Linked DNA regions of Homo sapiens: region 2 is linked to region 1. Evidence: fine-mapped expression QTL. A gene starts in region 1. The other region holds a variant in brackets. All regions are shown on one strand. Distances are between the middles of the regions. Region 1 holds the start of GCOM1 (GCOM1, MYZAP-POLR2M combined locus). Region 2 has its middle 27 kb from the start of GCOM1.

Region 1 (15,764 bases):
GGCGTTCTAGTCTGTGCCAAACACACAGATGTCGGCAAGTTCCAAGAATAAGAACCTGCAGCCTAAGCCTGGGTAGGACAGGCAAATGGACAAACAGATAGGGGCTGAACTATCAATCTACAAATGCATGATAGAGAAGCACTGGCTCTAGTCAGAAGACAATGAGGAGTCATTCAAATCTTTGGAGGAAGAGACTAACATTCAAATCTGAGTTCATTTCAATAATCCAACTGGTCATTTTTCAGTGCCTCCAGTGTTCCATGCACCACACAATGGACGGAAGGGAAAACATAGGGGGAGTGATCAAGTAAGCTTTGTACCGTCACCACTTAATATAGCCCCTACGGTGCTTAGCATAGTATCAACACATGATGGGCGCTCGCTCAGTGTTGGGTTTTGTAGTTTTTTCTAGGTTGAACTAAAACAAAGTAAGAATATACCTGAAACTCCCTGGAGTGCCTTGCACTTTCTTGAAACCAACCCCCCTGGGAAGGATAGCAAGGGAGGGACAGGTAGCATTCAGGTTTCCTCCACAAGAAAAAGCACAACAAAACCCTTTTTGGCAACTCAGGGCCCCTGGGGAGCTACATGGGTCCCCTCAGGCCTTGTTTCTGACCCTTTTGTGGAGATGAGGGCCTGGGTCTCACCTACGGGGTACTCTGCGGATCCAGTAACATCATGCTCTCAACTTCAGGCACCTTGGCTCACCCAGGGGAAAAATATCTATCTCAAATAAAAAGGGAGTGGAGAAGATGATTCAGGGAGGTGACAGGGGTTTGCCAGTTTACAAAGATGGATTTCCCTAAGGAAATTAGCCAAGTGCATTTACATTTCTCTCAGGCCTGTTCCACTTTGTGACTGTGGGTCCCTGCCCAGCTCCCCTTAATGATAAAAGGTGGGGCCCTTGTAAGTGTGGCTAGGGGGAACAGACCCCACACTCTCTGCTCAGCACAAGGATCAAATCCCAGGAGCCTGCAGCAGGCTGCATGCGGAACAGTGTATGCCCCATCTAGATTAGACCTCTTGGCTCTGCTGTGGCCCTGAACTTGCAGCCCAATTATCTACATCAGGGTGGGGCGAACTTTTTCTGTAGAGAGCCAGACAGTAAATATTTAGGTTTTGCAGGCCCCTGTGAAAACCATTCTTAGCTCAGAGGCATACAAAACATTCCTGCTTTCTGTGGCTGTGTTCTGTACTAGGCACACAATGTGCCCCAAACGCCAAGATCCAGAGAGAAAACACAGGTGGATGAAGGCACACAAAGATGCCAGTGTGACTTGGAGTGCGAGGACTCCCCCTCCCTGCCCCATCACCACCCTGCCCTTCATCCCACAAGGCTCAAGGGACCTTTCTGCAACACTGTCCCAGGAGTGTCTGCATTTCCAAGAAAGCTATAGAAGGGAGTAATGCTTAAAGAAATATTGTTAGCCTTGCTGCACATTAGAATCGCCTGGGAAGCTTCCTAAAAAATACTCATGCTTTTCTGTACTTTAAGATGTTCCCATTTAATTGGTTTGGGATGAGGCCTCGACATGGCTATTTTAAGCCTCCCAGTGATTCTGTGTATAACTGGTTGAGAACCACTGACTGAACCAAAGGGATGAAGCTCCAACTGTGCAGCAGGATGAGGCAACTCGAATATTTGGAGGACTTCCCAGAACTGTCAACCTCCTCACCTGGGCCAGCATTCCCATGTATTTGTCACCCGTTTCCTGCCCAGGTGGGTCAGAAGTGATGGGATGGATTTAACCCAAGGCTTCTCTTCCTGTTTTTCCATTTGCCAATTCAATGTTAACTGTGGCTCCTCTACGTAGGACCTGGTGAGATTTCTGTTTTTAACTGCCTATTCCACCAGGCCTGGGGAGGGGTGGTTCCTAAGCCCTGTCTTCCAGTAGGTAATCACAGGTGACGCAAGTAATGGTGGCATGCACAGGCCTCTAGGGGAACACGAGAAGGAGGGTTGAGGTTTCAGGGCAGGCTTCCTAGAGGAGACAACACTCATCAGAGGAGAAACATGAAGAAAAGCAAAGAGGCAAGGAACGGCATCGAAAGCTCGGGGAAATGGCAAACGATTTGGAATATCTGAGAAGACCACATATAGGGAGGGGAAACAGCACAGGCACGGGCCAAACCAGAGGGCCTGGATGCTACACTAAGGAGTGTGAACTTTTTCCTGGCAGTACTGAGGAGGCTCTTGAAGCAGACGAGTCAGGAGACTAGATTTAGCATTTTAGAAAGATCACCCCGGCCTTTAAGAGTGAAAAAGAGCCAGGAGTGTGGTTGACACTTAGGAACTATCACTCACCAAAGAGGGAAAGAGGTAAACACCACTGTATTGCTCTTCTGTGTGCTGGAGAAGTACTGGAATTCCGTAAGACCATAAGGCATGATGAGTGCTGAGAAGTATCTTGGGTTGAAATATTTAACATGGTCTCTAGTTAGTCAGCCCTGGGCCCACAGCTCCTTGAACTCAATTAGACAAGAACATTTGAGGCTAATTGACTTCAAAGCCTTCCCCAGTGACCAGGGCTTAGTGACACCAGCCTCCAGGTCTCTTGTTCAGATATGGATGCACAGCATAGGTAAACTACAACAGGGACCTCATACGCAGCACTCCATCAGTGCCCCCAGAGACAAATGGGTCAAAATCACATTCCATATCCTTTGTAGAAAAGCCATGGGATCTCCATAAATGTCTAGGGGAAATCAAGTTTCCTTACGAGTCTCCAGAATTCAGGTCTGTTCATCCTCTATCAAACAAGGCAATGTGAAAGATCAAAAGCATAGAGCTGGGCACCTCTTTTTCTGAGCCTACAACCATCATTTTTGACCGGCACAGGTTTAAGCCCTGCCCTTAGCCCAGAGGACGCCTTGGTTCCAAACCCTCACAACTTAGCCCAGTCAGGCAGCAATGGGACATGGGAGAGGGACACATTAGCCAAGGAACAATGACTAGCAGGCCCATTCCAGTGTTTAACAGAGGAAGCCTTTGCCAAATAGAAAGAAATATCAGCAAGGGCAGGCTAGGAGATAGTCCTATCCTGTGACCTTGTTGGGTTTTGTTTTTTCTCTGTGCCAGTGACGGGTCACGATAGCAGCAACACCAGCCAACAGTCTTTTATTATCAAGAGAGCAAGGTGCTGGAGAAGATCCTTGACAGATCTATCATTCCACAGCCCAGGATCAGAACAGCTTAGCCAAAAATACTCGGCAGTAAGTATTGTGCCGAAAGGTCAGTTGTGTGACCCGGTTGTGTGCTTTGTGGGGAAGCCATAAAGCAACACATGCCTTCCCCGCAAAGCACACGACCCAGCCACACAACCAACCTTCCATTTCAAAGGCCCATTTAGCAAGACTAACTGGCATTTATAAAATTCCTTTCAAAAGCATGAAGCAAGGTCAATATTTTTAAAATCGTTTCCCCCCATTCCCCAAGGTCATCTTCTGGCTGTGGTTATTCTCCAGTCAATTTGTCTTCCTGCTGTTGCCATAGATAAAACTATTTTTAGTGCACAACTGGTTTGAAGGAAGTTTTTTTAATTTCACAACTTCTGCTGGTTGGCATCCATAAATGCCTTTCAGAGCTTTGTTTATCAGCTGACAGAAATTACTCTCTCCACCTGTTGGTTTTTTTTTCCTTGAGAGGTGATTTCAGATAAGAAGGAAATACAAATTGCAGGTGGCAGCCATTGAACAAAGGCTAACTGGTGGCAGTCCAGCCAGCCACATAACCCTTGGCAGCTGGCTCGCAGGAGTCCCTGCTCAGTGTCAGCTGTCACCACCACTTCTGGTTGGCTTGAATATCTGGACCCACATAGGCTGGTTTCCCCTGCAGTACCCAATTTGATGAGCTCTTTGGATGAACCAGAAATACAATTTTAATGGATAACATGTTCAAGACCATCACTTGTCCATCATCAGAGAGGAATAACAGAACAATACAGTATTTGCTGAACAACTTTCAATGAAAGGTACACTTCCAATGATTATTTGGTCTACAATTTTACTTTCAGGACATCCCGTTCCTGCTTTTCTAAACAATAGGTATTTTGTCCCAAAGCAGGTCCAATTTGCCATCATGATAAAGTAGTCATGTGTCACTTAACCGTGGAGATGCACTCTGAGAAATGCATCATTTGATGATTTTTGTCGTTGCGTAATCATCATAGAGTGCACTTACACAAACCTAGATGGTATAGCCTACCACACACCTAGGCGATATGAGATAGCCTACCATTCCAACCACCGTCATATATCCTGGCTACTGTTGACCAAAATGTGGTTATGCAGTACATGATTATATATGCCAAGTATTCCATTGAGATGGTTATTTCCTCCTTTCAGTATCCCAATAATGTCAATTCCCCTACAAATTCTACTCATCCTGCAAGATTAAACTCAAACATCACCAGTAGGCGGGGCTGGGTGGCTCATGCCTATAATCCCAGCACTTTGGGAGGCCGAGGCAGTTGTATCACTTGAGGTCAGGAGTTCAAGACCAGGCTGGCCAAGATGACAAAACCCTGTCTCCACTAAAAATACAAAAATTAGCCAAGCATGGTGGTGTGCGCCTGTAGTCCCAGCTACTCGGAAGGCTGAGGCAGGAGGACTGCTTGAACCTGGGAGGTGGAGGCTGCAGTGAGCCGAGATCGTGCCATGGCACTCCAGCCTGGATGACAAAGTGAGACTCCATCTCAAAAAAACATACCTTTAGTGAGAGGCCTTCCCCTGATGCCTCAGGAAGAACCTTTATTTTAGCTTCTACAGAACTTTGTAAACTCTTCACCCCACTATAACCATCACCACTTTGTTTGATGTTAGTTTGGGAAAATGTCTGCCTCTACAGGTAGGGCGGACCCCAATGCCAGCCCTTTACCACACAGAGAAAGGTTTATGAATGTTCAATAAATCAATTAATCAACATCTCACAGCTTCCCACCACACACACAATCCCCAGCACACACACAGATAGTACTTGTAACATCTGCAAATCATGAGCAGAGCTAGAAACCATAAAGATGGGCAGAACCCTAGACCCTTTAGATACCTTCCTTCCAGAAACAAGTACCAGTGTACCCAGGACAGCCCTGAATGGCCTGATCCCGAGCCCTGAGTTCTCCAGTCCAAAATACGTCTGCCATCTTATTCAAAAGGCAAAGTCTTTTCAAGAGTGTCACAATGTGTCCGACAGCAAAGCACCTATAATTAAATAAATATTCCAAAGGAAACGTTTGACCCAAAATCTTCAGAAATGTTATTTGTATACTAGTCACATTTGTATCAACCCACCGTATTAGGTTAGGTACCCCAACTAATCCCCACCTCTGGAAGGGAAGTTACAGAGAATTTCATGCAATTCATGCAGTCTGGTCACACATATGATCCTCTCAGGGCTCAGGGTTAGCTTTTCAGTGACTTCATTCTTTCTCAGTTGCAATTGTGTTCAAATTGAGAAAGATTTCCATAGAAAAATACAAACACCCAACTTAGAGTAAGGCCAGGACTGTGGTTGGAAACCCCCTTGGACCCAATGTAGATCTTACTCTATGATGCTAATGATTGGACAACTGGAGTTCTGTCAACCTTGGGCATGAGCCAACTGATGGATTCTGGGGTGTGTGTGTGTGTGTGTGTGTGTGTGCGCCTGTGTACACAACCTAAGTGTCTGGTGAGTGCACGCACACACACACCCCAGAATCCATCAGTTGGCCCATGCCCAAGAGTAACACACCTTTCTTCTAGAGCTAAGAAAGACAGCTTATAAGGTGACCACCATCACTCGCTTAAGGCATGTAAAAGCAAATAAGCAGGTCCAAGCCTGCACGCAGACAGAACCAGTGGGGGTTTTGCTTTGGACTTAACCACCTGTTTAAATCTTGAGGAAACACGATTACAGAAGTCTCAATCAGAGCAAAGAGGTACCAAATGATAAGTATTGAACATCATGATAAATGGAAGAACTAAAAAGCCACAAGCCAAGCCCCTGGCTGTGGCTCTAAGGTGCTGACCGTGTTAGAAAGATGGAGCATTTCTTTTACAGAGCATCTGGAGAGATGGGAAAAGATGCCACAAAGATCAAAAAGAAACAGCACTTCCAAAGGGAAACCTTCCCTGGAGATGCTGTCCCAAGCTTTCAGTGCTGCCATTGTTGTCACTGTGCTAATATTTAAATCAGACAGAAGAAAGTGGTTTACATAAACCGGAGTCCCACACAGTCGGGCTCCTGGGCGGCCGGCTGCTGTTCTGGTTTGCCCACCTTGGCTAACCCCACTCCAGAATTACCCTATCACTAGTGGATACCCTATCACTAGTGGACACAAGTGACCCCATCTTTCTTTTAATTAATGGAAGAAGGAAAGTTTGAGTTTTAAATACATTCATTACTTTTGAGTCTCAAGGTAGGGACACTGCACAAATGTCTTCCTTCATTTTTAAACTGGTGCCGCCAATAAACTCGGCTTGACAGAAAGGCAGGAAGGAGAGGAAATCTCTGGGAATTCCATAAAGTCCCCTAAGCCCTCTCCTACCAGCTGGTGGGCCCCCTGAAACCTCAAGCGGGAGGGTCACTGCCAGAGCCGGCACAGGACCGGGGAGTTGAGCCCAGGGTGGGGCGTCGGGGCCAGGTGCTGGCTCCCGAGCTTTCCCATCCCTAGTCCCCTCTAGAGGGGGCGGCCGGGATGGGGGAACGGGACGGCGGCGGCTCCCGCCCCCGCTACTCACCCTCCTGCTGGGCGCCCCGGGCGTCCTGGCGGCGCCGCCCGAGAGCAGGGTGACCGTGGACGTGGAGCGCAGCATCCCGCAGCGGCGGTCGGTAGCGGGCTGGACGCCGGCGTTCCTCCCGGGCAGAATAAGCGTGCGGGGCCCGCCCTGCGCGGGGGCGACGCGGGACGGCGCCGGCTACTTGCAGCCTCAGCTGCACCGCGAAGGCCCGGGGGTGGGGCCGGGGGCGGGGCCGGGCCGGGCCGGGGCGGGGCCGAGCGCGCTCACCCGACCCGTCAGGCTGCATTTTCTCCCGAGGGCGCCGACCCGGTTAAAGTTGAGCACCATCCTCTCCCAGGGCGCTGCGCCCTCCCAGGGTCAGTCCCAGGGCAAGAAGGAGCCCTGGACAGCCTGGACGCCCATGCTCTCTCTGTCCCCCGCAGAGTTGAGATCCACCTGCCCATTCAGTCTCACGACCTACCCCCACCCCGGACTGCCCCCTACAGCCTCTGCACGCCCTCGTATCACTGGGACCCTCACCCCATGTCATTCATTCAGTATTTCCTGAATGCCTATTATGCGTCCCCACCAGCAGCCAACCCAGTCGACTGGCTGTTGGCCTCGGAGAGTTTGCAGTGTGGTGGGGATGACAGGTGCCGGGCTGTGGTAGAAGAGGAGATACCATGTACTAAGGGAGCACACAGCCAACCTCAGAGGAGGTGATGACTAAGCTAAGACCTGAAATGCAAGTAGGAGTGGGCCACACTGCCCATATTTATTCAATGATTACTGTGGGCCTGCCTGGCGAGCACTTTGCGTGTGTTACCTCATTTAATCCTCACCATTGCCCTTTGAGGGAGTCACTGTTGTTACCTTGTATCCCCATTTTGCAGATGAAGACGCTGACTCACCTAGGGATTGAGCAACACAGCAGGCGACCCACTGGCCTCTCAGTGGCAAAGGTAGGATATGAATCCCCCAGTCCGACCCTAGTGCCTTGCTTGTCCCCTCTGCTGTCCCCTAACAGAGGGAGGAGGGAGTCCCAGGTCAAAAGAACTAGCATGCACAAAGATGGAAGGAAAGCAAGGGAAGGTATAAAATATGTTTCAAGAATTGGAAGTATCACAGTGCAGTGGGAAAACAGTGGAGAAGCAGCGGAAGGGAGCTGAGGACATCATGAGGAACCTGTGTGCTTAGCTGGAAATTTGGCCTTTATCTTGAGGACAAAGTGTTTTTCAGCAGGGAAAGACACAATCTCTGTCTTCAAAGCCCAGGTCAAGCACTGCCTCCCCACGGAGCTCTCCAGAAACCCCTTCCCCAAACACGCATGCTCAGGAACTTAGCAGCTCCGCGGGACCCTGTCTTCTGTTAGAGTTATCTATGTGTGTGCCTGTACCCTGTCCTTCTGGAGGGCAGAGGCCAGGCCTTGACCCTCTCTGAATGCCCAATGGCACCAACAGGGAAGATGCTGAAAAAAAAATGTTGCTAAACAGAATTACAGATGATCCTGTGGAACTCACTCCTTTTGTAGATGAGGAAACTGAGGCCGGTGTATACAAGTGACTTTCCCAAAGTTGCACAGCCTGTTCTTCACCATCCTCATCGTCATCCTCACAGTAGCTGTGCTTGTGTCCTAAGTGCTTTATATGCATTTTCTCAACCAATTCTCACAATGCCCCACAAGGTGGGCTACAGTTATCGCCCCTGTTTTGCAAATGAGGAAACTGAGGCCAGAGACATTAGGTTAATTGGTGAACAGCTGAGACTACACATCTAGTCTTCTAACCCAAGTCCTTCTGCTTTTCTGCTACACTCCTCTCTGCATCCTCCCATCCACCTATCCCTTCCAAAAAGAAAATTGTTCATGACAGGTTCCTTCCCATTCCACTTCCACGAAGCCCTCTAATCTACCCAAGTCTTTTTCATATTGTTAACATCCTATTCACACGGTGTTATATTTCTTTACAAAAGCAGCAGACAGCTCACTAGCTTGTGAGCTCTGTGTAGAAGCTGGATCTTGTTTACATCTCTGCCTGTCCAATATCTAGAGCAGGTAATTGACGTGTGGTAGTGCAAGTAAATGTGGAAAGAATGAAGAAATGTTATTACAGAGTAAGATTTCAACTCACTCATGGTCATGAAAAACAGAAACTAAGATCCTTGCCAACCCAGCTCCTAGGGTGGGCCAGGGACTCCAAGCAATTTGGCAGCTGAAGCAACAAGAGCCCCAGGGTTGTCCCAGCCAGGCCATTTCCCCAAAGCTGGCTGACAATCGCCAAGGGCTGTGGGTGGTGTGTCCAGGCAGATGCCAGGCCCTGGCTTATGCCACAGCTCCTCCCTAATAGGCCAGCACTAGGAATCTGAGGTCATAAGGAACTGCAAGAGAGAGGAGAGTGGGGAGCCCAGAAAGTGGGAAAGAAGGAAAATGGGAAGACAAGTAGGACTGAAATCAATGGAAAAGTGGATCTAGAGTGGAGAGGAAAAAGTAAAAAATGAAGTCACAGTCACTGGTTTCCATTAATATTTCTGAGAGAAGATGATTTTTAAAAAAAGATGGACTCTTTTCAAAAGAGGAATCAAAAGCTGAGAACTTCTGCCCAGTCAGCAGTCCTCTGGAGTCTACAGAACTGAGAGTGGGGAAGAGGGCCAATGGGAGGGGAACAGGGATAAGGGTCTGGTGTAGAAGTTCTCCACATTCCCTTGCAACATGACTCATCTACTCCAGACCCTCTGAGCATTGGTGATGAAGGGGTTGCTAGTGTTTGGGCTGGAGAGAACGGGAGCTATGACAAAACTGTCTTAGCTGTCATCCTTTTCTATCCACAGAAATAGCCACATAGGCCTAAGAGCAGTCCTGAATTTCTCTGCTAAAGCACAGGTGTGTAGAAAATTCCAGATGTCTGTATAAGCACCCTTCATTTTCTTGTAATCAGTTACTGAATTTTACCTCCTTCTCCCATCCCAGTTCCTAGAATTATCTTTCATATCCTCTAGGTCTCTGCTTCTGAATTGTCTTTGTTGCTTTCTGCTAAACTCTTTCCAAATTCCATTGGCATCTTTAGTTGAGAGGCTTATGATAGGACCCTTTTCTCCAGCAAAGTCCTGAGCAGCAATGACTCATTATTTCTTGCACAAATGATCAAGAGTTAAATCACTGGACAAGAGCACACAGTAGATGAACCCAAGCAATTCTGGCCCTCCTGATATTTCATGCCCTCTTCACTCTTATATCTCTGAAGCTTCTCTTTCTTTCTCTCCCATTCAGCTGCGACAGCATCCCGAAGTCCTGGCATATTCTCCCATTCTGCATGCCAAACAGACCAAACTTTCACAATAGAAAAAGGACACATTTCCAACCAAGGACAAGGGTAATACATTACAAAGCCCCTTTGGATAAAGTAGAACAAGAAACACCCCATATTCACAGGTTGTCCGAGAAACAGGGAATGGGGCCTAGAGATAAGAAAGGCAGGCTGAAAGGAACCCAAAACCCCAGCCAAGTCATCCAGATACACAGCAGTTATAGGCCTGTCTAGACACAAGGGCTGGAACCACTTGCTGATCCACCCTGGGGAATACAAGCTCATTGGAAATCATTCTGTTGTCTCGCCAGTTAACCCAGTGAACCAACAGGCAACTGGCAGAGTAATAATAAGCCAATTCATGGAACAAATATGTACCAAGCACCTACTGTGTACTGAGCACTGGGGACTGAGGTGAGTAAGACAGCCCCTGTCTTCTAGGAGTTCACAATCAAACCAGGAAGAGAGATGTGCACTTAGCAAATAAAATGACAGCTAACACTTTTATATGGCACTTACTGAGTTCACAAAGCTTAAAATGCATCAACACATTTAACTGTCGCAGCAACTCAGTGAGGAAAGTAGTATTATGTCCCTTACTTTGCAGATGAGAAAATGGAGCGGCAGGGAGGTTAAGTAACTTGCCCTTGGTTCCAGCACTAGTAAGTGGTTAAGCTAAGCTTCAACCCCAGGCAAGATGGCTCCAACATCTGCATACTTGACAATTCACCTCCTCTACTGGGATAGGGGCCAGATTTGAGGTGTGTCCAGAGCACTTATGGTAGGCAGGAGGGAAGCTGCTTGGGCAGAGAACAGTGAAGGCTTCCCTGGGAAGGTGGCATAGGAGTTGTTGGACACGAAGAATGAGGAGGAAAAGGTAAGCGCATTCCAGACAGAGGAGCTGGAAGAAATAGTGGGTCGGGGGATGTGGGAAATGCATGTTAGCCAGTTCTGCTTGAACTTCAGGGCAGGAGGGAATGGCCAGAGACAAGTAGGGTGGGGTTAGATTGCAAATGGACTTGAATAAAATTGAGACTTAATAGCAGATTATGAGCTCTTAAAGTTTTGCAATTAGTGCAGTGATATGATCAGATTTGTATGAAGAAAGATGGCAGGCAGCAAAGAAAGGAGTAAGGATGGCAGACAGAGCCTGGAAGGCAAGTACTTTGGAGTGCACTGGAAGTGTGGCCATGACGTAAAGAGGCTCTGCACTAGGGCAGTCGGTGGCAGTGGAATAGAAAGGAGGGGATGGATTCAAAAGGCAGAAAATCCACAGAACTTCATGACCAACCAAAAGCTGGAGGATTTTTGTAGGCCACCCCAGTGAATAGTCGACAAATACCTCTACAGATCCTGAGGGATGGGGAATCAGCTAAGAAAATGAATGAAATAAAGGATGAGTGATTTCTTTCTCAGCCTTGGGACTTCACCCAAGTCTGAGATTAAACACAGTGAGACAAACCTCAAAACCTAGAAGAAGGCAGCACTCTTACTTTTCCAAGTAGCTACTACTGTGAGCTTGGAGAAAACATGTTGATACAAAGGCAGAAACCTTACGTATTTCTTTTCTCAGGAAGATACTCTGATGACTGTCTTTAAGAGGAAGTAGACTCCACCCAATGTCAAAAAAACAGTAATAACAAAAAGGAAGGAATCAGTCAGATGAGACACGTGAAAAGAATTAGGGGCCTTCCTGAGAAGCACGGGGCAAGAAGCATCTCTTTTTGTAGCCCATGTACTTCCTTGAGTAATTTACCCCAAAAGTTAGTGACCGGTCAGTAATTGTCATTTGGACAAATTAAAATATGAGTAGTAACTGTATTTAAATCTATACCAAAAAAAAAATAGACAATCTATAAAAGGGAAATTCTTTTTTGCTCTTTTTTTTAAAAATAAAAAGTCCTGAAATGCTTTGTGTGCGTATTCAAGCAGAACATCTGATATGTCTATTTATGCAATGACTGTCATTTTAGGTCACCCTCTCCCGGAAGTAGATTCTGAGCCAAGGACTCCTATGTAGGTGATCATTAGGGAGGTGCTCCCAGGAGAAACCAGGAAGGGAGTGGGAGACCCAGGGAGGGGAAGAAACAAGCAAGGATGCAACCTTAGGTAAAGTTTCAAATTCAGCCTGATCCATGGGCAGCTCTGAAGTATAAATTGCACCTCACAGCTACTTCTGCCTCAAGACAAAAGAACTAGGGCATTTGTACTCTATACTAGTCAGTCACTGGCTAAAGGTTACCTGGGTATGGGGATGGAGGGTGGGGAATGTACATGAACTCTCCGGCATTTGCAGCACTCCACAGGGGCAAGGAACCTGAATATCCTTGGAAAATCCTCTGAAAGTCACAGGCACAGACCATTAGCATCCAAGGATGCAAAAGCTAGGGAATGGACACACAGAGCAGGTGAAATGTGGCTGAGGAGATATGCATGGGTATCAACTGTGTCCACTATAGCTATATATTATTTCTGTAAACAAATCAAGATATAAAGGTAGATACTGGCCAAGTGCAGTGGTTCACGTGTAATCCCAGCACTTTGAGGGGTTGAGGCTGGTTAATTACTTGAGCCCAGGAGTTCAAACCAGCCTGGGCAACATAGTGAGACCTCTGTTTCTACAAAAAATAAAAAAATTAGTCTTGCATGGTGACAGGCACCCGTGGTCCCAGCTACTCAGGAGGCTAAGGTGGGAGGATTGCTTGAGCCCAGGAGGTTGAGGCTGCAGTGAGCCATTATTATGACATGGCACTCCAGCCTGGGCAACAGAGTTAGGCCCTGTCTCAATAAATAAATAAATGTAGATACCAGTGGGTATGTAATATGTCACCGCTTAGAGTAAAATCTCTGGGACAATGATAACAATAAACCACTGAATGGCCCACAGAGTCTGGTACAAAACAATGTGGATACAGACAAAGAATCAGGGGAGAGAACACTCATCTACTGATGGAAGAGATAGGATCCAAAAAACAAATAGGCTGGAGCCAGGAGCAGAATCTGACAAGATGAAATCTGGCGGGAATAAATTTGTGATCCTAACCTTGAGTCCAAGGTCAAGAAGAGCACAAGACAGGACTTGGCAGACCCGGCTCAGCAGCAGCATGTGCTACAGATGCCTATGGAACTCAGCATGGCCAGTAGCTCCACAGAAGCCCACCCTTCTGTGCCCTAGAAAATCTCATCTGATTTCATATGGGATTCAGAGGAAGGCAGCTACTCTGTGGTGCTGGCCGAAGCATGCCAGAATGTGGCCTTCAGGTCTGGGTGCTGTGGTTTGAAGGAAAAGGGAACACCCAAATGATTTCAGAAGAACATGACCCAGAGAGTATAAGAATGATGGGAGATGCAAGTGATAGAACTGGGAATATTGTCCCTAGAGAAGAAAAGGCTGGCAGACATGTTAAATGACTTCCCTTCTTGAATGTCACTCACTGTGGCAGAGAGATTAGACCTTCTGTGTAACCCAAAGTGTAGGACAGGGGCCAGTAAGCAAAAGCTGCAGAGAGATGGAGTTCAACCACAATGTGAGGAACAACTTTAATAGCCAGAGCTAGCCAAGGGAAGGGATAAAGGAAAGAAATTGGGAAGGGTGGAAATGATGGGCAGGGATACCTCACACATAGGCAGGGAATTCCCTATCCCTGGAATGTGGCTCTGCCAGTGGTCACCAAGCCAGACTGCACACCAAAGCTGCCTGGGGACTCGCTAACACTGCACCCTGGGTCCCAACCCACAGTCATTCTGATTTCATGGATCTGGGATGACACCCAGGAAGCTATATTCTAATAAGCTCCCCAATTTTTTTATTATGCCATCATCCAGCATTTGTACTGGGCCCAGGTCTGAGACTGCTGGTGAAGACAACTCATCAAGGATGACTAGAAAGGACTCAAGCTCATGTGGGGAAAGGGGCATAGAGTAGATATATTTATTCCCTTCAAATTCCAGAGGTCTGGGGCCTTGGGATTGTGGGATTCTAGCTGTCAAATCAGAGGAGTCCGTCTGAAGAACACTGTTTAATAGACAGCATGGGCTTTGGAGCTAAACTAACACGCATTTACATTCAGGCTGAGGAGTCTTGGGCAAGTCATTTTCATTCTCCAAGTCTGAATCTTCTCACTTGTGAAATGGGGGATAACAGCAGCACCTCCTAGGGTTGTTGTGAGGCTTGAAGGAGATCATAAAATATAAACTATATGACTCTAGTAAGTCATAGCCCTCAACAAAACTGAAGACCCTTCTAAAGAAAACTAGGAATTGCCTGCTCATTTTTTTGGTAATGCTGAGTATGAAAGATGACAGAATACTTTTTTAAGTCTGGAACAATTTCTTCAAAGCAAAAATATTGAGTGTTCCATGCCAGTGTTAATATAAGACATTTAGAAAAGAATAAAGCCCTTCTTTTCCTCTATTTGATTTGCTTTAAGACAGATTAATATAGACAACCAATCTATTCTTAGCATGTAAGAAGAGAATCATAAAACTTTGAAACAGAACAGTATTTATTTTTTAATCCTAAGAAGAACGATAGTACTCCCTAACATTATTTTTCTGCCTTTAGGCCTCCAATGAACTCATGTAAACAGGTTTCCATTATAGCTCCTGTGACAAGTATAAACTTTACCATAAAACATAGAATATGAACCATTTTCCTCTAAGTTCAATTTACTCTGTCCTAAGTTGCTATCTGGCCCCACTCCAGCTGACAGGGGTCTTTCTGATATGCCAGTAGTGGCTTCAGGCAGGGTTTCTGCTTGTGGCTGTGAAGGTTGTTCACAACACAAAGACTTCTGGCTAAAAGAACTAATGTTCCACCTGACAAACTGTGCCACTGACACCGTCCCTAAAAACTCCATAAAACTAATCCGGGAAGAAGGGAGGGGAAGAAATGTAAATGAGCCAAGCTTGCAGCACACTCAGCATCCATCATAAGAGCAGCTCGCTGTCTGACCTGCTTCCTCATGGTTGTTTGGTGCCTATGGCCTCAAAGTCATGTAGATCCTGGTCCAAGATTATAGTTCCACCTCACTGCTCTCTAGATAACAACATGAGTATTATCAAACCTCAAGTTTTCCATTTGAGATATTCTTCAGGTCCTGCATACCAGTGAAACTATGGACATCAGCTGCTCTGAAGGACCCCATGAAAGTGGACTCACCAAAGAATGTAGTTTCCATGTCCTGATGATTTCATCTCCTTTACCCCAACCAATCAATGACCCCAATTTTCCAGCCACTCGCCCTCCATGATCCCCTTAAAAGCCCCAGCCCAGAACTCCTCAGAGAGGTGGATTTGAGGGTCTCTTCCTATCTCCTCACTCAGCATTGTGATGATTAAACTTTTTCTCTGTTGCAAACCCTGCTGTCTCAGCATATTTGTCTGTTACTCCACAGCAGGTATATGAACCTGCTGGTCCTGTAATACCCCCAGCTTGGGGCTATGCTCACTAGAGAAAGGGATGCCATTTCTAATTCACACAAAATCATAGGGGCTCGTGGATTTCCTGTCCTGGATATGTGGGGCTCTGTCATTTTTGTGCAAAATCCACCCCCACACACACAAAAAAACCTGTTCCTGCCCTTAGCCTTCCCCAGCTCAGTTGATGGGGACTCCTTTCTTCTAGTAGCTCAGCCCCAAATCCCTGGAATCACTCTTGCTTCCTCCTCTTACTCTCATACCCTACATGCTATCGATTGGTTTCACCTTCAGAATATATCCAGAATCTAAGCCCTTTCAATTAAAGGGGCTTAAGCCACCATC
Region 2 (15,764 bases), 26 kb after region 1:
GGTGTGAGCCGCCACACCTGGCCCAGAAACAGTCTTTAAGAGGGATGTGGATATTCAAGAATTGAAATTTAGAGACTCAGAAAATGGACCTAATGACAAACAAATGTTTTTTGAGAGCCTAACTGTTTCCAGATGCTCCACTGGACACTGGGAATCCAATGGTCAGCAAAATAAGCACGGACCATACACATGTGGAGTTTGTAGATTATTGAGTCAACAGCACACATCAGAAATTGACTCAAAAAAATTAAAATCTAAAGGCAAATAAATGTTAAGCAATTATTTTGAGAGGCAAAATTGAGATAATAGAATAAGGTTTGGATTCAGACCAGAATTGGGTTCAAATGCTGATTTTGCAACATTTAATGAAAAGAAGACAAAATTATACACACACATGGTTTTAAAAGTCCAGTGGTTCTACAAGTTTATAATGAAAATTAGCACCCTCTTGCCCCTTGATCCCCATTGCGTAGTCACAGCCACTTTTAACTCTTTAAGCTATTTCTTCTGGTATTTATCATCATATATTTCAATTACACACTTATATGGCCATATCTGGATTTTGTTTAAATTTTAGATCCCATCTAGTGACTCTCCATGTGGAAACTGAGGTTTTGGTCTCTTAAATCTTCCTCCCACATGCCCCCTCATTCTTCAAATACAGCTATATCGTAATTTTGTTTAAATCAATAATCACGGCTTATGCTCTATGACCGCGTGATCATCAGTCACAGGCCATGAAGTGCATTTTATAGTAATATTTTCTTTCGTATACAACTTTTTGTTTTTCCTGAAGCTAACAACTATCACCTTTTCTCCACTTATTTAGCTTTTTATGTATTAATACTTATCACTAAGTCATCACTAGCTTTCCTTCAAAAGTGACAGTGTGTCACATGACCAAACTCATCCGGTCATATGTCAACAGCATTTTTTTTCTGGAGACAGCCTCCACCTCCACTTCCCGGAAGAGCTCTCTAAACTCCTGCTCCAGCCTGGACTGGTGGGGCTCCAGGCAGCCCCATGGTGCCATCCTGGGGCTTCGCTTGCCATCATCCAGGGTGTCCTCTGGGCATTATCTCCTGGGATGCGTTACCTGCTTCCTTTATCTCATGCTGTCCTTTTTTTTGGATAATTCCCTCATTTTGGAGGAATATACCCAAGGGTAAATAGGAATTAAGGATTTCAAGACATTGTATTTCTGAAACTGTCTTGATTGATAGTTTGGACATGTACAGGATTCTAGGGATAGAGAAGTAATTCTCTCTTAGAATTTGGAAGGCATTGCTGCACGGGTTTTGGCATCTAATGTTGCTTTTCTTGAGAAGTCTGATGCCATCCTGATTCCTGATCTTGCCTTGCCTCCCCCTACAGATTTTAGGGCCTTATCTTTGTCTCTGATGGTCTGAAGCTTCATAATTACAGTAGTGCCCCCTTATCCACAGTTTCCACAGTTTCTGTTACCTGTGGTCAACCACGGCTCAAAAATATTAAGTGAAAAATTCCAGAAATAAACAACTCATAATTTTTAAATTGCATGCCATTCTCAGTAGCGTGATGAAATCTCAAGCTGTCCTACTTCATCCAGCCCAGGATATGAATCATGCCTTTGTCCAGCTCTATATGCTACCTGCTCGTTAGTCACCTAGTAGCCATCTCCATTATCAATTTAACTATTGCAACATCTCAGTGCTAGTGTTCAGGGAACCCTTATTTTACTTAGCAATGGTCCCAAAGCACAAGAGTAGTGATCCTGGCATATTGTTATAATTGTTCCATTTTATTATTGTTGTTGATCTCTTACTGTGTCTGATTTATAAATTAAACTTTATCACAGGTTTGTATGTATAGGAAAGAAAATGTTGTATATATAGGGTTTGGTACTCTCTTGGTTCATTTTGTGTTGCCATAATGTAATACCTCAGGTTGGTTAATTTATGAATAAAATAAGCCTGTTTGGCTCACGGTTCTGTAGGCTGTACAAGCATGGCACCAGCATCTGCTTCTGCTGAGGGCCTCAGGCTGCTTCCACTCATGACAGAAGGTGAAGGGGAGCCAGCATGTGCAGAGATCACACAGCGAAAGAGGAATCAAGAGAGAGGAGGGGAGGTGCCAGGCTGTTTTTCACAACCAGTTCAATTAGGAACTAATAGTGTAAGAACTCACTCACCCCCAAGAAAGGGCATTAATCTGTACATGGGTAATCTGTCCCCATGACCCAAACATCTCCCATAGGCTCCACCTCCAGCATTGGGGATCAAATTTCAACATGAGGTTTGGCATGGTCAAACCTCCAAACTACAGCAGGTACTATCCGAGGTTTCAGGCCACCACTGGGGGTCTTGGGACACATTTCCCAGGGATAAGTGGGGGCTGGGCACATGCATTGTTGTGGGTGTTTTTCATGCATTGTGCTTGGCACTCTGTGGACCTTTTACATATCTATAGATTCACGTCTTTCAGAAATGGAGAAATTTCTTGAATTGCGTCCTTCTCCCTTCCATATTCTCTGTTCCTAGTCTATGGAACTCCTTGGACTGATCCTCTAATTTTATTATGTTTTCTCTCCTGTTTTTCACCTCATTTATGTTATTACTCAACTTTCTGGATAATTACTTCAATTAACCTCATTTTCTAACCATTAAATTTAGTTTTTCTTTCTGCTCTCAACTTTGAAGTTCCAAGGATCATTTTGGTTCTCTGCTATGCTAACCTCTTGTGCTTGTCTATGTAATCTCTGAAGATGAATCAATCACAGGACTTTGTTGTTGTTGCTATGGTACAGGTTTCTTGCTGCTGCCCAGATTGCTTGTTTCATCCCTAGTTCCTTGTTTTGTTTTGTTTGTTTTTGTTTTTGTTTTTGTCTATGTCTTTGATATTAAGGACTTCTCTCAAATGCCTGATGACCCTTGACTGTTCGCTCATATTTCAGAGTGAGGCACCCAATAGTTGATGGGGTGACATTCATCAACTATAGAATTCACCAGAGGGTAAACCACTGAGCAGTTTCACCAAGGTACTCCCAACCCTCAACATCTTTTAAATTCTATGCCTGAGCTGCCAGACATCTTCCCTAGAAAGGAATCCTCGAGGCTCCTGCTTGGAAGAGATCAACCTGGCTGCCAGTGCTCTTGGAGCTGGGCCTGGGGAGGAGGCCAGTGGTGTCACCACTCAGCACATATACTCACTCAATCCCCCATGTGGCATGGTACCCTGTCCTCAGCTATGCTGCTGCCCAAAGCTGGCAGCTCCAGAGAAGAAATATCTAGTCTTCTAGCAGCAGGAGGGAGAGGATCTAGGGACATTGAAATATTTAATATACAAACTTTCAACAAATCCTATTTTTAGCTCCACCTGTGCCCATTTTCAGAGGACTCTGCCTACTTCAAACTTCACCCCCAACCACATAGGCTGTGCCATTTTCTGGTCTGTTAAATTGACACTTTGCCCTCTCCTTCCGGCTTCCCAGATGCCATTGCTCTTGCTTACTCTCCTATTCTCTTTTATCATTCTTGTATTATCAAGTTAAAAAATCCCTTCAGTGTCATTTTCATGGGGTTTCAGGAAGGAACAGTACTACCCAAGCATGTCAACCTGCCCTGTTTAACCAAAAGTCTAACTATGCCATCTCGCTGAGCTAGTTCATGTCTCAAGGCCTTTTCTTCCTCATCTGGAAAAGGCTGAAAAAAAAATACATACGTTATAGGGCTGTTTTGAGAATAAAATAAAGTAATGCTTGTAAAGCACTATGTATGGTTTCTGGCACATAATATGTGCTCAATACATAATGGCTATTATTCTCAGTTACCAGATCCACTCTAGCATGCAGAGTGGAATTTTTTTTTTCTGCATTGCATGCAAAATGACAGACAATGCAGCAAAAAAAATTCAGATTATACTGAAGTAGAACTTCCAAAATTCATAAAAAATAGACAGTGGAAGTAATTCTTAGTCAAAGATGTCATCTTTCTATAGCCATAAAATTTTAAGACTCTAATGAACAGTCACAGTTTGGGTTAGTTTAGACATAGTCCTCCCTGGGACTAGATGAGATGACCTCTGAAATCACAAAGAAGCAATTCATCTCTGATGAATAAATATCACAGGGAAATGGAGCAATGGTAATAAGCCCATCATTCCCAGGTATTTGAATTGCTTTATTTTCCAGGCTGGTTGCTCATTGGAATATTAGAATTTCCTATGAGTGATATAACACAGCACAGGAAACAGGCAGGTGGACTGTACCAGAAAGTGGTGTCGTATAGTATTGCAAGGATATATTTGCACTGGAGCTGGGAAATTAATTTGAATTTAAACAAGAAATAACCAGCCCTTAGACCACAAGCCTTCATGAACCAGGATTCTGAGCTGCTCAGGCTTAGAAAACACACAGCTCTCCTGGGAGTTGAGTTTTGAAGGGGGTTCACGCACAGAATCTAGTTATCTTTTTTTTTTTTTCAGGGTGAGGTGACACACAATAAAATGTTAACACAGAGAATGCTTGGGAATTTATAAACTTTGGTGAGGAAGAGAGGTAGAAACATGGTTTCTCTAAGGAGCAGTCATGCTTGACATTTTCAGAGGAAACTGGCATACACATTGATGCTAATGTTGGGGGAAACAGTTGTGTGTGATTTATAGATGATGAAAAACATTTGACAAGAATCTTTTGCAAAGGCTATCCTTTTTAAGGAGTCATGGCTGTAAGGAATGTTCTCTCAGGCATAGAGAACGGGTTTACAGATAAGAAAGAACACTCATAAACAGCAACTGCCCTGTGGAAGAACTGTAACCCCAGGGCCTTCTAACTGCTGGGCCTACCATCAATTTTTCGCTTCTTTTAAAAACTTAGCGATTGCATGTTCACTATTTAGGAACACAAACTAGCAAAAAAAAAAAAAAAAAAGGAAAATTTCCTGAAAACCTGCCACCAATCTTAGCTTTTTCACAAACGATCTTTGTATAAGAAGAAAGATGTAGAAAAATCTTCTGGTTTGGACCGGGGGTGGTGGCTCACGCCTGTAATCGCAGCACTTCGGGAGGCTGAGGTGGGCGGATCACGAGGTCAGGAAATCAAGAACATCCTGGCTAACGCGGTGAAACCCTGTCTCTACTAAAAATACAAAAAAAAAACTAGCTGGGCGTGGTGGCAGACGCCTGTAGTCTCAGCTACTCGTGGGGCTGAGGCAGGAGAATGGCGTGAACCCGGGAGGCGGAGCTTGCAGTGAGCTGAGATCGCGCCACTGCACTCCAGCCTGGGCGACAGTGCGAGACTCCGTCTCAAAAAGAAAAGTCTTCTGGCTTGGACACCGTACTAAGTTCCTACAACGATGCCAAGCTTATGGCCTGCACACAGAGGGGGAGTCTTCTAAGACTAGCTTTGAGGGAGCCTCAAAAGCCATTTTGCTCTATCATAGCACCTGACATCTTCATCATTACTGATACATTTATACTAGGGAAATATTAGGACTCAGTGAGTCTCTTTAGGAAAAGCCAGCATCTTATTGGCCATTACACACCTTAGCAGCGGTTACATTGCTATACTAAGGCCAACACCTTGGAAAGCAGAGCATAAGGCTCTGGAGAAAAGGGAAGTAACACGGTGCTTTGCAAATTGCAAAGACCTGTACAAAGGGAATGTTGTTATTATTGGTCCAAAGCAATGGGATTCTGGGTAAAACTGTGATAGAGGCTCTGCACCAAAGACATCAGACTCATAGGTCAGCAATGCCAATAAAACTCGGATATCAGTACGAAAACTGTGGGTCACCAAACAGAGACAATTGTCTAAACAACATGTGCAGTCACGAGACATGCAGGCCTGGTATCCCTGCCAAGAGGGTGAGAGTTGTATGGAAAACTTCCTCTGCACTCTGGAATTGTGCCCTGTGGCTGTGACTGCCTGGCTTTTACAGACTTCATGGTAACTGCAATTAAAAATGCAACAAACCCTCATACATGACAGGTGGGATTGTAAAGTTATATAGTCACTTTGAAAGACAATTTGACAGTTCCTCAAAAGGTTAAACATCAAGGTACGTTATCACCCAGCAATTCCATGCCTGCAATGTACCTAAGAGTATTGAAAACATATGTTCAAACAAAAACTTGTACACAAATGATCACAGCGGCATTCTTCATAATAGCTAAGATGTGGAAACAACACAAATATCCATCAATTGATGGATGAAGAAACAAAATTTATATTTTGTTTGTGTTCTATTTATACAATGGAATACTATTCAGCCTTAAAAAATAATGAAGAGCTGATCCATGCTACAATATAGATGAACCTTGAAAACATTATGCTAAGTGAAAGAAGTCAGACATAAAATGCCACATATGATTCCATTTATATGAAATGTCCATAATAGGCAAATTCATAGAGATAGAAAGTAGATTAGTGGTGGCCAGGAGCTGGGGGATTTGGGTGGGGAGAATGAGAAGCTACAGTGGGTATGGGATTTCTCTTTGGGGTAATGAAAATGTTCTGAAATTAAACAGTGGTGATTGTTACACAACTCTGTGAACGTATTCAAAGCCCATGTATTCTACACTTTAAAAGAGTGAATAATATGGTATGTAAATTATGTTAATAAAGGTTTTTTATTGTTGTTGAGATGGAGTCTTGCTGTCACCAGCCTGGAGTGCAGTGGCATGATCTCAGCTCACTGCAACCTCTGCCTCCCGGGTTCAAACAATTCTCCTGCCTCAGCCTCCTGAGTAGCTGGGATTACAGGTGCGTGCCACCATGCCTGGCTAATTTTTGTATTTTTAGAAGAAACAGGGTTTTGCCATGTTGGTCAGGCTGGTCTCAAACTCTGCCCTCAAGTGATCCACATGCCTAGACCTCCTAAAGTGCTCGGATTACAGGCGTGAGCCACTGTGCCTTGCTGGAAGCTACTACTAAAAGAAAATACCTGAAAACTCAAAGACTTTTTATTCTTTCCTACCCACTGGCCAGAGATCTCTTAGCCTTCCCTCAGTATACTAAAAGTACATGAGTAAATAGTCTGCCAGAAAGGGTGGAATAACCTGGGGACTATTACACCGTACAGTAGCCAATTCCATTTTTCTTTAATAACTGGCAATGAACACTCCCAGGCGTTTTCATTGTTCGTGAAAACTCTGCTTAGAACACAGAACAGAATCAGAGGTACAGGACCAGCCACCGAAGTTACACCTCTGGTTTGGTTGTCTGATTCAGGAAGGAAGAAGGTCAACTCCACAAGCCCCACCCTGGCAGGTGTGCGGAGCACGAGGGGGCCTTCCTGAGAGAGCAAGGAAGTGGGGCGGGAGATATCCCTGCTGACGAAAGAGACAAAACCACATCCAGCCAGGGGCTGCTGTTGCAGTATGGAGTTCCCCTCCGCGATGTGAGCAAACAGAAGAGAGAAAACGCCATCTCATGCCAGGATCCTTTCAAATAGGTCTCTTTCCCAGCCAAGCCTACTTTCTGCAACAGTTTTTCCCTTACATACGAAGCTTCTAGCAAAACACCCAGCATAGAGTGGGAGCTCAGTGAATATTTGTTTCATGAATTAATAGCAACATTTCTTATGATGGCAAACAAAAAATAAATAACTAAAATGTTCTACAATGACCTACTGGGTCATGCACATTTATGGTATGCCCATAACTAGGCAAGTCATTTAATATTTCTATGCATAATTTTTTTTGCTAAAATAGAGTAATAGTACCTATCTCACAGGGTTATTGTGATGATTAAATGAGCTTAGGTATATAAAACAAATAGAATATTGCATAGCATATAAAAATTACAAAACAAATGTTAACTATTAGTATTATTATTCCATGGAATACAGTGCAATTATTAAAACTGTGTTGAAAAAATATATTCTTTTGAAAAAAATTTTTGAGAAAATATCTTTTTATAGCTGAAAAAATTCACAATAATTTAAAAAAATAAGCTATGTAATAGCATAAACAGTAAGATTCCACATTTTGTGAAATAAACATCCATGTAAAGAAAAAAGTGTACACAAATATACATAAAAATATTTATAGTAGTT[ATTTCT/T]AAATAGTGAAAGCAAGGGGGACTTTCTTTATTATTAATTGCTTATCTATTTTTCAACAGTCAGTATAAATTATTTGAGTAAGTATAAAAATTAAAAATCCAATTGAATCAGAAAAGCATTCATATTATTTGACACACTAATTCCAATTTGAGGATACTATTCTTTAAAAAAAGTCCCAAGTACCAAAGAAAATATTGCCTATAAGAATTAGGTAAAGTGCCAGGCGCGGTGGCTCACGCCTGTAATCCCAGCACTTTGGGAGGCCGAGGCAGGCGGATCAGGAGGTCAAGAGATCGAGACCATCCTGGCTAACACGGTGAAACCCCGTCTCTACGAAAAATACAAAAAAATTAGCTGGGCGTGGTGGCGGGCACCTGTATTCCCAGATACTCGGGAGGCTGAGGCAGGAGAATGGCATGAACCCCGGAGGCGGAGCTTGCAGTGATCCGAGATCGCGCCATTGCACTCCAGCCTGGGTGACAGAGCGAGACTCTGTCTCAAAACAAACAAACAAACAAACAAGAATTAGGTAAAGTGTGATGATTTTTCTATAAATTATAGAATAATATATAATGAGTTTAAAAGATTGATGTTCAAAATAGGCGTCAAAAAGCATTAGAGTAACGCTTGAAAATATTAGAAAATGCTATCTATATTAAGTTAACTGGGATACAAATGACTAGTATCTGATCTCAAGCATATAACAAAAGTAATCATTGGCAGAAACAATAGCTGACTCTCTGCCCTTTGTTGAAGTTAACTATATTTGTCACCTTTTGACCAGAACAAGGTGGATTCTTTCTCAACAATTTACAAATTAGCCAGAAACCCCTAAACTTAATAGAACTTCAGTTCTTCCAGGTGGAGGGTTGTCCTGTGACATAAAACTAAAATCATTAAATCTATCCAGTCTAGGAAGAGAAAAGCCCAAGAGGAAATATGCTGTCCATGTATGAAATCATAAACGTTCAGGTAAATATAGCCCTGTTCATTTATCAAAATGTGAGACAAACAAAAGTTATTTTAATTCTATCAGTATTTGTCAGGCACCTGCTACAAACAAAGATGAATAATGAGACAGACTTTGTCCCGGAGAAGCTCACCACCTAATGATGTAGGAAAAAATAACTATAATCAGCTAACCACAGTCCGGAAGCGCTGCAAGAGAACAAAAGACCACAGGAGCCCAGGGAAGGGGGAAGTTTGGATTTGAAGCATCACCTGGGACGTAACCTTGATGCTAAACCTTTACACTAAAGCATGAACATGGTTTTGGTAACCGGCAGACTGAATGGTCAAATTCTAAGCAGGGATGCCGTCCTTCACTGAACCACTGATGGGCACTGGGGGTAGCTGATCACTCTTAGGGCTGTGTCCCTGTGCACTTGCAGAATGTGTCAGCATCTCAAGTTGACAACTTCTTGAGAAGTTGAGGGAATGATGTGGAAGAAGGAAAAGAGCTCAACAGCCCAAATCCAAGAAGCAGATCTTTAAGCGCAATGCAGTGTTTTAAAGCCTGCTATAGGAGTACATGAGAGGGGGACCACACTTAAGCACAGCCCATTTAAAATGCTTTAATTGCCTATCTGTGCAATAAGACTGAACCAAATGAATATTGACAAATCCGCTAACATAATCTAGTCTTGCCTTGCATTTATAAAGGTTAGGACCCAGAATTATAATGTTCTGTTTAATTTCAAATGCCTGCTGTCTGACAGGGGCTTTCTCCCGAGAGAGAAAGGCGTGGTTCTTTCCCTCAAGGGGCTCCCACCCTGGTGTGAAGAGACACACACATCACAATGTCAAAGCCTCGAGGGAGGCACGGGCCTGCCTGGGGATAGCCAGAAGGTCCTGCTCCCACCAGCACCTTCACTTTTAGAGCAAGGAGGGAGTGACCAGCATGGACTAGACAGAGGGGGAGAGGTCAGGAGTTAACTCACAACCAATGTTAAAAATGGACTTAAAGAAGAAAAGGATGTTAGCCTGGAGAAGAAAGAACTTAGAAGGGGCCTAAGAGCCTTTTTGACTATAGAGCCACAATGAGGAAAATGGGGAGAGTGGGTCAGTGCCACACATCCCCAGCAGCAGGCAGAGCAGAGATGATCACATCTAATATCACAATCACTTCTGAAATTCTACAAAAATCCACAAAAGAGAGTACAGGAAGAAACCACACACAGGGCCAACAAAGGATGGGATGAATTCAGGAAGATAGGAGAGTGGGGGATGAACTTCCACCGCTGGGTAATAAGGGAAGCAGGGACGTGAGGACAGACGTTCATGCCTTCCCACAGGAGGCCTTGGAGCTGCCGACAAGGCATCTCCCAGATGACGGAGCAGGCGTGGCAGGACGCCATCTCGCTCAGGGCAGCACCTGGTTAATGTCAGCACCGGGTCTGGTGAGGGCTGGTCTCTGCTGCGACATGGCAGGAAGTGTGCTGTGAGATCTGGTTAGAGGATGTCAAGAGGACCCCCTTGCCACAGCCTAACCAGTGTGTTCTGGACCCCACGTTTCCCTTTCCAAACTCTAATCCATCCTATCATTGCTCAGGGCTTTTTGATTCTGCTCCTTCCTCCCCTCCCCACACACATAGAACCTTTTATTCCAAAATCTAGCAGTACATCATTGGTTAGTAGAAAATAACTCTCAGAGCCGGGCGCGGTGGCTCACGCCTGTAATCCCAGCACTTTGGGAGGCCTAGGTGGGTGGATCACTTGAGATCAGGAGTTCGAGACCAGCCTGACCAACATGGAGAAACCCCGTCTCTACCAAAAAATATAAAATTAGCCAGGCATGGTGTCGCATGCCTCTAATCCCAGCTACTCAGGAGGCTGAGGCAGGAGTATCACTTGAACCTGGCAGGTGGAAGTTGTGGTGAGCCGACATCGCACCATTGCACTCCAGCCTGGGCAACAAGAGTGAAACTCCTTCTAAAAAAAAAAAAAAGGAAGAAAAAGAAAATAACTCTCATAACTTAAAAACAAAAATCAACAAACAAACCCCCCCCTCAAAAAAAAATCCTATAACATAAACTTCCCAACCATCTAAAAACCCAAACTCAAAACGTGTTTCTTTTGTCTTCCCTTCTTGAAGGAAGTAGGTCTGCACGGGCCTCCCCATCTCCTAGAGCTCGTACACAGCTATGAACCTGCTCTCAACAATGACTGGACACTTCCTCTTGGTTCATGGAAAAATTTGCTCGTAATTTTCCAGTCTGACTCAAGCTATCAGCTGGCGATACAGTTTTTTGCCAGCTTTACAGTCATTACATTACTCAAACAGAAACCCTTTTGCAGGTGACCTTGAAAGTTATTAAAAACTATTCTCTTTTTGAAGGAAGGACTTGTTGGGGGCGCCTGGTAGAGAGAGGATGTCTCGACTGGGTCTGGTGGTGACGACATCCTGGAAAAGGAACAAGATCCAAGTCACCAATCATTCTCTTATACAACGCATCCTTGAATTTTGAAGAGCCTGATATTGTGGATGGTTTGTATTGTCATTTGGCAGCAAAAATAACCTACATTGAATACACAGAAATAGTCCTCCACAGCCTCTGCCCGGGCTTTCCAGGTTTGACCACTGTGCAGTGCCTGTGATGCTCTCTGCTGCCACCCAGTGGATATACTGAGAAAGGTCAGGTAGGATGTTTAAACCCAGAGGTTCTCAGTGTGGTCCCCAGACCAGCAGCATTGGCATCAAATTCTTGGCTGCCCTAGAAACTCTGGGAGTGGGGCCAGCAGTCTATGTTTTCACAAGCCCTCAAGGTTATTCTGATGCACACTGAAGTTTGAGAAACACTAGTGTAGACTAGGTAGTAATTTGCACCCAGGGATGTGTGAAATGGATCATCAGATTTCTCCATTGGGAGAAGTCGATTGTCCTTATTGATGATCAAGGATCACATCTTTTATAGGAACTAATTTCACTGGCTATTTTAAAAAAATTACTCGTCTTCTCAGAAATGACAAGAAGGCATAAACCCCAACTCCTCTGTTTTTTATCCAGAATCTCCTGATTATAAGCAGCTACTGCTGCCTTGTTACTAAGAGTGGTATTCAAGGTTCTCCAAAAATATGGATCCAAACGTGTTTTCCAGTCTCACCTCCAGTAATTCTCCACTTCATTTACTCAAGATTTTAATGCAACTGGCTGATCCTCTGAGCCCAGCTTTCATCCCCGTGTTCCCTCTGTTTTTTCCACCAAAGATGCACCCTTCTAGGAGATTAAAATTTCATAATAAACAGTTCTAAATTTTCAAGCCCATTTTAAAGCCCTTTCGAATGCCATTTCCTCTATGAATTCTGCCCTGATTGCTCCATCCAATGACAGCCGTTCCCATCATGAACCTCCGCCACACTTCATCTATACCTCTTTTATAGTGCTTTAAATTCCATCCCTTGTTTTTTTAGTGCTCGGTGGACATTTCTGATCCCGTTGGGTCCAGAACTGAGCCTTACTCATCTCAGCATAAGCCAGTGCAGACTAGGTGCATAGTGACTGCCCTTTGAAAGGTATGCATGAATAACATAGGTCTCTCACAAAATAGCAGTTCACAATAAATGTTGGAATTCAATTTGTTGCAATGCGAATATTGCAACAGTTCACCTAAGAGTAACATAGGAACACCAGATCACCTGGGCAACACTGGGAAGGCAAAGCTTCGTTTTGTCCAAAGTCCTCTTTGGGACTTCACCACTGATGGGTGGGGCCCTGGATTACAGGAGCCACTAATCTACTCCTGTGCCACATTTGGGCCAGAAGCGTCCAACAGCTCCCCCTGCTGTCCACCTCGGCTATTACATCAGGACTGTGAAGGCTTCCATCATCACCCATCAGTCTCTTCTTTAAAGAGCCCACCTGAGATCCCAGAAAACCGCATTTCTGCAGCCACTACTAACACCTGGTTGAAAATGCTGTTCCCCCCATCCCCCCAACAGACCCAGAGCCTTTGGTCCAAATCTCCTGTTGCCATCTCAGGAAGATGAGATCTGGCAATATTTCCCTCCCAGGCCACATCCCCCACTGGCTCCCATCCTCACTACCTTCCCCAATAAGTGTTCATATGTTTAGAGTTTTGACCACTGTGGACCTGTTAGGGAAGAGAGATGCACTGAGCCTGACAATGCAGCTGGGGGTAGGGTGCCCTTTAAAGAGAACCAGAAAAGCAGTGGGAAGCCAGAGGGCGAGGGATCCAGGAGTCCCCGAGAAAAATGTACAAGAAGCAGAAGAAACAAAATAAACTAGAAACAGTGACTGCCTCTGAGTAGAGCCTGGAGAAATGAGCGCCAAGGATGGAAGACTCACTTTTCATTGTTTTACCCTCCTGTACTATCTGCATTTATTTTATGTGCTACTCAAAAACCACACTAGACAATAAATAAAAAATTAAAAAGACTCACAAAACGACAATTTCTAAAAGAAACTTCACTAACAATATAAAAAGACTGCCCTGATGAAAGAAAGATTAGTCTATTATTCGGGAAGAAATGTTAATAATCAAAGCTGAGGGGAGAGAGAAAGGGAGAAACTGCCACATTTGTAATTTCTTGGGTCTGTACAAACTAGTAAACCCTTCTGAAAAGCAACTTGGGAACTGTATTAGTCCGTTCTCACACTGCTACAAAGAACTACCTGAGACTGTGTAATTTATGAAGAAGGAGGTTTAACTGACTCACAGTTCTGCAGGCTGTACAGGAAGCATGACTGGGAAGCCTCAGAAAACTTGCAGTCATGGTGGAAGGCAAAGGTGAAGCAAGCACATCTTCACATGGCAACAGGAGAGAGAAAGAGGGGAGAAGTGCCACACACTTTTAAACCATCAGATCTCGTGAGAATGATCTATCACGAGAACAGCATGGAGGGAATCTGCCCTCATAATCCAGTCGCCTCCCACCAGGTGCCTCCCCCAACATTGAGAATTACAATTCAACATAAAGTTTGGATCACAGAGCCAAACCACATTAGGAACTTTTATAGAGACTTAAAGATGTTGTCTTTCCTCTTCTCTTTCTGGTCATCTAGCCAAAGCAAATTATTTGAAAGATGAAAAAGCTACAGATATAACAGTATTTGATGTAGGAAGGCAGAATTCCAAATCCTACACATTTGTTAATATACAAATAGTATTATAGTTAACTGATGACAGAATTCACTCAATGTGATGTGATTTTTAAGTGTATTTTTAAAAAGCATTTTTAAAAAGTGATCAAGATTATCTAATATCTATAATGTTAAGTGACAAAAAAAGCATATACAAATCATATAAACACTGCAGTTGTACCTATGCTTTAAAAACTGTGTAGGAAAAAAAGACTGGAAAGAAATGAGCCAAAATGCTAATAATGGTTGCATCAGTATGGTGGGGTTATTTTCCAAATTTGTAGTAATACAGTTACCTTATTCTATATAGAAAAATAAATATGTAAAGGAAGTAATGAATCTTTTCAATCTCACCCCCTGCCAAGCAGGAACACACGGGAGGCCTCTTGGCAAGTTGAGGTGTCATACCATTTCAGGACCATCCATCTAGGAAACGCGTACCTAAGAACACCCACCACCATGCATGCCTCTAGTTCCAAAGTGTTCGAAGAGCTACTCCCAGGATGTAAGGATTCCAGCTCCTGGGTTGAACTTAAAAGTTTGCTAAATGTAGTTCATACTCCAATCATAAAGGGTCCAAATGGGATATAGCAAAATGAACAAGGCAACTACCCCAGTTAGCCCAGGGATGTGCGAGCACCCCTCTCACCCATCCAACCATCCAAAGAGGACTGCGAGCACCATGACCCATAGCGACAGCAGCCAGGGAAGAACAATGGTCAATTCCACAACAGAGTTGGGCGTTTCAAGGGATGAATGAGTGTATTAATCAAGGATCCTCAAAGGATAGAACCAGTGGGTGTGTGTGTGTGGAGAGAGAGAGATTTATTATAGGAATCGGCTCATGCAGTTAGAGGCAGAGAAGTCTCATGATTTTCCACCTGCAAGCTGTAATTGAGTCCAAGCCCAAAGGCCTAAGAATGGGGGTGTGGGGGGGCGGGTAGCAGTGATTGCCTAAGTCCCATTCAGAGTCTGAAGGCTGGAGAGCAAGGAGCGCTGATGTCAGAGTGGGAGAAGACGGATGTCTCAGCTTAAGTAGAGAATGAATCCTCTATTCCCCCACCTTTTTGTTCAGTGAGGGCCCTCAGCAGATTGGACAGAGCCTGCTCACAGTGGGGAGGGCCATCTGCTTTACTCGTTCTGCCGATTCAGAGGCTAATCCCTTCTGGAAACACCCTCACAGACATACCCAGAATTCATGTTTTACCAGCTATCTGGGCATCCCTTAGCCCAGTCAAGTTGACATCTAAAATTCACCATCACACAGAAGATGCCACCACCATTCCACAGGGGACAGAGCTGGTGAGACCTTGGTCTTTGTGAGCCTGAAACTAGACATGTGGCCACCCAAGGAAAGCTGAAAATGCCACCCCCAAAACAGGCCAAGAATTCAGTGTTCTTTCCAATCAATATTCTTTAGTATTTATTCTCCATACTGGAAGGACAAGGGGAAACAGTGTTCTGGGGTGAAAATGGAGAACGAAGTCCTCCGGGGCAGTTTTTGGTGTTCCTCTTTTACTGTTTAGGCCTGGTCAGCTCTGGTCCCAAACTTGGACATCCCAGCTCAACCAAACCTCACCCTGACACTACCTGCCTGGGTCCTCTCCTTACAGTGCAGTTCAGTC

What was found. PIP is the estimated chance that this variant, and not a neighbour inherited with it, causes the effect.
Region 2: its variant is fine-mapped to the expression of GCOM1 in whole blood (INTERVAL, PIP above 0.99).

What each region holds. Positions count from the first base shown.
Region 1 is chr15:57,583,066-57,598,829 of GRCh38, reverse strand. It overlaps GCOM1 (GCOM1, MYZAP-POLR2M combined locus), which reads right to left and starts at 6,926. Exons shown (of 17, transcript NR_104371.3): 1 at 6,721-6,926. MYZAP (myocardial zonula adherens protein) reads right to left here and starts at 6,926. Exons shown (of 13, transcript NM_001018100.5): 1 at 6,721-6,926. The coding sequence starts at 6,795. RefSeq lists a silencer at 6,928-7,037.
Region 2 is chr15:57,557,058-57,572,821 of GRCh38, reverse strand. No RefSeq gene overlaps it. Among named protein-coding and RNA genes, the nearest start is that of GCOM1, 27 kb to the left of the region's middle. The variant ATTTCT/T (reference allele first, on the strand shown) is at 8,034.